Linked DNA regions of Homo sapiens: region 2 is linked to region 1. Evidence: fine-mapped expression QTL. A gene starts in region 1. The other region holds a variant in brackets. All regions are shown on one strand. Distances are between the middles of the regions. Region 1 holds the start of ECPAS (Ecm29 proteasome adaptor and scaffold). Region 2 has its middle 53 kb from the start of MIR7702.

Evidence for each region. PIP is the estimated chance that this variant, and not a neighbour inherited with it, causes the effect.
Region 2: its variant is the best candidate, but not a certain one, in a credible set for the expression of ECPAS in fibroblasts (GTEx, PIP 0.75).

The regions. Positions count from the first base shown.
Region 1 is chr9:111,482,748-111,485,660 of GRCh38, forward strand. ECPAS (Ecm29 proteasome adaptor and scaffold) reads right to left here and starts at 1,636. Exons shown (of 50, transcript NM_001364929.1): 1 at 1,369-1,636. RefSeq lists silencers at 266-685, 956-1,075, 1,196-1,735.
Region 2 is chr9:111,216,781-111,219,693 of GRCh38, forward strand. No RefSeq gene overlaps it. Among named protein-coding and RNA genes, the nearest start is that of MIR7702, 53 kb to the right of the region's middle. The variant T/C (reference allele first, on the strand shown) is at 1,176.

The DNA of each region.
Region 1 (2,913 bases):
GGTATTTATGACCCCAGCGTGGGTCCGCGGCGCCCCGGAACTACACTTCCCACAAAGCATTGAGGCGAACCCCGGCGGCGGGCGGGGCGGCCTGGGATTCAGGGTGACCACCGCTCTCCCCAGACAGGGACCGCCGTCCCCGGGAAGGCTGCACCGCGTACGATCGAGGGGGCACTAACTCTCCTTTCTGAAAGCGCTGTCACCCCGTGGTTTCTCCTGCGGTTCGACCGGCGACCCTCTCCGCCCTCCCTGCTCCATCTGAGGGTCACCGCCTATTCGTGACCTTTCGGCTGATTACTAGAGTGTCACAAAAAGGCACCTTCTCCCCCTTCCCGAAAGCTCCATTTCTATAACTCAACCAGCCGTCGGGGACCCGGGGCCAGGCGGGGTCAGACGGGACGGGCGGACACTGCCCGTCACCCCGGGGCTCCGGCCCTCCCGCCAGCCGAGGCTCAGTGGGCAGGGGGCTGGGCTCCCCCGACCCCGGGCCAGGGCGGATCGCGGGCAGAGGTGGCTCCGCCCGGGGCTCCGGTTTCAATTTCGCAACGTGACGGTGCAAACCTGAGGCCTACAAACGCCAGCGGCGACGGTCCGCGCCCCGCCCGTCCGCCAGGCCCGGGCTCCCCAGCTCCCCGTACGCCGCGGCCGCCGCCCGCCCACCGGGCCTGGCGCCCCAGCCCTCATGCGGCCGCCGGCCCCCGGCACCGCGCGGCGCCCGTTCCGGCTCGCGGCCGCAGGTTCGGCCGCGGCACTTACTCAGCTCATCCTGGGAGGCGGAGGCGGCGGCCGCAGCCATGTTGCGCCGGGGAGGGAACGAGGGAGGGGCTGGGGGGGCAGGGCGCGGCCGGGGGGCTCGCGGCTCGCGGTGCGGCAGGGGCCGCGAGCCGCCTCCGTTCACTCGGCGCGGACCGCGCTGTGCCCCGAGGCCCGCCCGCCGCCGCCGCCTGCGTCCTCCGCGTCGCGAGCGTCGCCCTTCGCTGCCCCCGCGAGCTCGCGACTCGGGCGCTCCCGCAGCCTCGCGCCTCTGCGGAGCCGCTGCCGCTGCCGCCGCCGCCGTCTGTGCGGCCGAATCCCCGTGCGCCAGGCCCGCGCGGCGGCTCTGCGACTCCGCGCCGCGCTCGCCCAACTCACGCCGGTTTTATATTTAGAAAGAGCTGAGCCATCCTCCCAGCGGCCCCCCCGCCGGGCCCCTCGCGCGCCCGCCCGCCCTCGCTCGCTCGCGGCTCGTCCTGCCCACCTGTCGCCGCCCGCCCCGCGTGCGCTCCCCGCGCGGACTCGACACGCGGCGGCCTGTGCGGGCGGCCCGGCCTAACCGCGCCGCCGCGCGCGCAGGGCCAGTCCCCCGCGGCCCGGGGGCGGGCCTCTGACCTGAGTCGGAGCCGGTCTCCATGCCGCGGACGCTGCGCTCGGCGCCGCGAGGTGAGGGCTGTAGAGCGAGGCGTTCGGCGGGCCGGGCCCCGGGGAGCCGCGCGCCGCAGTCCGTGAGGGGCTGGGCCGAGCGGGCCCGGGCTGCCCTAGCGGCCGGGGGAAATCCTCGAGGCGGGGCCGGAGCGCCCTTTTCCGAGGTCTGCGGCTGTCACGTTGGCTGGGCCCGACCTGGGGAAACACGCCTGTCCAAAGGAAGAGACGTGGACTCAGAAAAGTAGAGCCGGGCTCGGAGTCGGCGGGAGGAAGCCCCGCCCTGCGCCTCCCGCCGAACTTCTCGGCCCCGGCGCTGACTCAGTCCCGGACGAGCCCCTGCGCCGCAGCGGCCCCCGACAGCCCAGTTCTGGTGTGGAGGTGGCTGGTGCTCCCAAAACGGCTAGCGGGAGCAGGGGGTCCACTCAGCCCTGCAAAAGTTAGATAAGGCAAGATTCCTAAAGTTCACATGGAAGTATCTATGCCTATGTGAGCTCTGAGATTTTGTTCAGATACCCTATGTTCTTTTCGGTAACTAGAGTGATTTATTTTCGATATGCTGATTTTAACTTTCTGCCTTCGCTTTGTCCGTGAGGTCATGTACACTTGCAAAATGAAATTCAAATTCAGGGGTTGCATAATTGCTGTACTTTAAGTGATGGTACTGTCATAACAAATTAGATACAAGATCAGATACTTTTTTTATATAAGAAGAAATCAAGTCTTAAATAGATTGAAATTGCATTTATTCCTTAAAGCAGAAATCTATAAAGCCCTAAGTAATGTCTTAAAAATGGAATATATGTCATTCCTGTTGTAACATAGGCCAAGTACAAGGTACAACACTGAAGACATTTTTATTTCCTTTATTGTTTTTGTTATAGAAATTATACATGATCTTGGGCCGGGCGCGGTGGCTCACGCCTGTAATCCCAGCTCTTTCGGAGGCTTAGGCGGGTGGATCACGAGGTCAGGAGTTCGAGACCAGCCTGGCCAACATGGTGAAACCCTGTCTCTAATTAAAAAATACAAAAATTAGCTGGGCGTGGAGGCGCGCGCCTGTAATCCCAACTACTCGGGAGGCTGAGGTAGGAGAATCGCTTGAACCCGGGAGGCGGAGCTTGCAGTGAGCCGAGATCGCACCACTGCACTCCAGCCTGGGGGACAGAGCGAGACTCCGTCTCAAAAAGAAAAAAAAAAGAAAAATTATACATAATTTTTGTAAAAAAAAAATGCAAATGATTTGGAGTATCATAAAATTAAAAGTGAAAGTCCTTCCTCCTAGCCCCACCATCCCACTCTGCAGAGAAATTATGACTAACAGTTACAGTTAAGTGTGCAGAAGACCTTTTCTCTGGACATATATATACAGCCCCATGTATGGCTTTGATGGGGACAGGTTTCTACAATAAAGTTCTGGATCAATTATTCCTTCACACACATTGTTCCATGTTAATTCAAAACACTGCACTACCATCACCCTTTTTTGTTTGTAACTTCATACTACACTAAGTT
Region 2 (2,913 bases), 270 kb before region 1:
TGGATGACTCCAGAAGTCTCTCTGCTGTGACCAAAGACCATCTTATAGGCCATCTCATCCATCGCTGCTGTTTCTCCTTGCCCCTGTTAGTTACCCCCTCTGCTCTGCAGTCCTGGTGTCAGTAGAAGCAGAAAGCAGTGAAGCATTTCCAACCATCCCAGAAATGGGGTGCATTATTCTTTCTCAGAAATTCAGAGATCTCAGAAGCATCCACATGTAACTGCTCATTAACAGCTTTTTCTTATTTCTATTTCCTATAACACAGCAAATCAGAAACGTCTAAAGAAAAGGGTAAATTTTATGTACTATTTCAAAACTAAAAAATAACCAATTATGTAATAAGTGAAAAAAAAAATTGAAGCAGAAATGGAAAAATGATTTGAGCTCACAGGATAAATCTTGATATATGTTGCAGTGGTTGACTTGCTAATTCTTCTTCTTGCTCAATGTCACTGGATGAAGAATTGTAACACGGCAAACTTTCAAAGATGAAATTCAAATACCTGGTAATTTGAGGTTTCGTTGGGGTTTTTTACTGTAATTAATTTTAGGAAAAATTCATCTTTGGCATGCAATGATCTGGGAATAATTTCAGTGAAAAGTAAGGATGCCTTTTATTGGTATTGGGTTTTAAAGATTACAACAAGCTATAATTTACATTATCTTATTTGATTCTCAAAATGACTGAAGTGGAAAGGAAAGTTATACTATGTTCTCCATTTTACAGGTGAGGAAACTGAGGCTCAAAAATCTGACCAGGTGTGGTGGCACTCACCTATAATACCAGCACTTTGGGAGGCCGAGGCATGAAGATTGCTTGAGCCTTGGAGTTCAAGACCAGCCTGGGCAATACAGCAAGACCCCATGACTACAATTTTTTTTTTAATTAGCTAGGTATAGTGGCACCTTCCTGTGGTCCCAGCTACTCACAAGGCTGAGGTGGGAAGATTGCTTGAGACCAGGAGGTTGAAGCCACTGTGAGCCATGAACACGCCATTGCACTCCAGGCTGGGCGACAGACTGAGAACTTGTCCAAAAATAAAAATTAAAAAAATCATAAGGCTCCTAACCAAGATCTTACAAAAAGTAAGTAATGATATTTGGTCTTGATCTCAGTGCAGTGTATTTTCCATTATACCCTAATGACTTTTTATACCCCCAGCTTTCTGGAAAAG[T/C]TAAGGAGCTCCTATTTTAAACATTGAAAATGAAACTGGCTTTTCCAGATACCTAAAGGTTATTTGTGTGGCAGTTAGGTTTTTTGCTATTCACATACCAATATCTGGCTACACAACTGCAGTATCGTTGGTGTGGCTTCACTGGCATGCTCACAGAATAGTCCTGCCCTCTTGCACTGTGGACACATCTTCCCTATCTTACCACCTCATTGATAATGCCCAACCTTATAAACATAAGCAGGAAACATTCCCTTCTTGTTTGAGTTGATCATTAGGCAAAGGACCAACTTGAAGAGGCCATTGCAGAAGTGAAATTTCCATACTATACAGTTGTGAGTTGTTTAAATATTCAGGGGGAAAATGGTCAGGGGTGGAAACTGGTCAAGGAAGAGAAAGACACACAACTGTGAATAACTGAACAGATCTGCATTCATAAATCCAAATTTGTCAATGGGAAATTATCGAAATGGTCTTTTGTGTGTGTGTGTGTGTGTGTGTGTGTGTGTGTGTGTGATGGAGTCTCGCTCTGTCGCCCAGGCTGGAGTGCAGTGGCGCAATCTCTGCTCACTGCAAGCTCCGCCTCTCAGGTTCATGCCATTCTCCTGCCTCAGCCACCCAAGTAGCTGGGACTACAGGTGCCCGCCACCATGCCCAGCTAATTTTTTTTTTTTTGTATTTTTAGTAGAGACGGGGTTTCACCATGTTAGCCAGGATGGTCTTGATCTCCTGACCTCGTGATCCACCAGCCTCAGCCTCCCAAAGTGCTGGGATTACAGGTGTGAGCCACTGAGCCCGGCCTGAAATGGTCTTAAGATGTTTGGTCAGGTTAGTGTGTTCACAAACTTTATTCCGTCTCATTAAAATGACATACTTGTGAAAATTTTGGAAAATATAGAAAAATAGCAATCACATGCACAAATAACCAGTTTCACGGTAACTACTTAAGAGTTTGTTGTGTTCCCTTCAGTATTTTTCTTATGCAACATACTTCTTTTATGTAGTTGACAGTTCTGCAGTGCTTCTTATTGACTGATCCTGGGAAAGTTACTTAACCTCTGAGAACCCAAGAGCATCTGCTTATACTTCTAGTGTCAATACACATTCATTGGCAGCTTTTTATTATTTCTATTTCCTAGGATATGGCAAATCAGAAATTTCAACAGCCTAAAGGAAAAATTTTCACACTCTTTCAAAATTAAATAATTCACAAATAAAGAAAAAAAGATACAGAAATAAAAAACAAAGCATCACTTTCCTTATCTAAAAACTACGGGAAATAATAGGACCAACCATATGGGATGGTTGTAAGGATTCATGAGAAAATGCCTATCAATTGCTTAACCCAGGGTCTGTCAGAGAATAAGCACTCAAATAGCTATTATGTTATTTTATATATATATATATATATATATACATATATATATATGTGTATATATATATATACATATATATATGTGTGTGTATATATATATACACATATATATATGTGTGTATATATATATATGATTTTATACTAATTGGTCAGTTAACAAGTTATTCATTTTATTTTGTATCACACTTTATTCAAAAGAGGATTTCAAAGTGAAATGAATGTAGAGAGTAAAGAGGATTTTTTTAATCAGTAAGAAAATGAAGGTGTAGTATGAGAAAACTAGGGTGGGTGGGAAAAGAAGATAAACCAAAGTATGAAAAAAATAAGATGACATTAAGAAAAGTTAACTAAACAAAATGTAAGCCA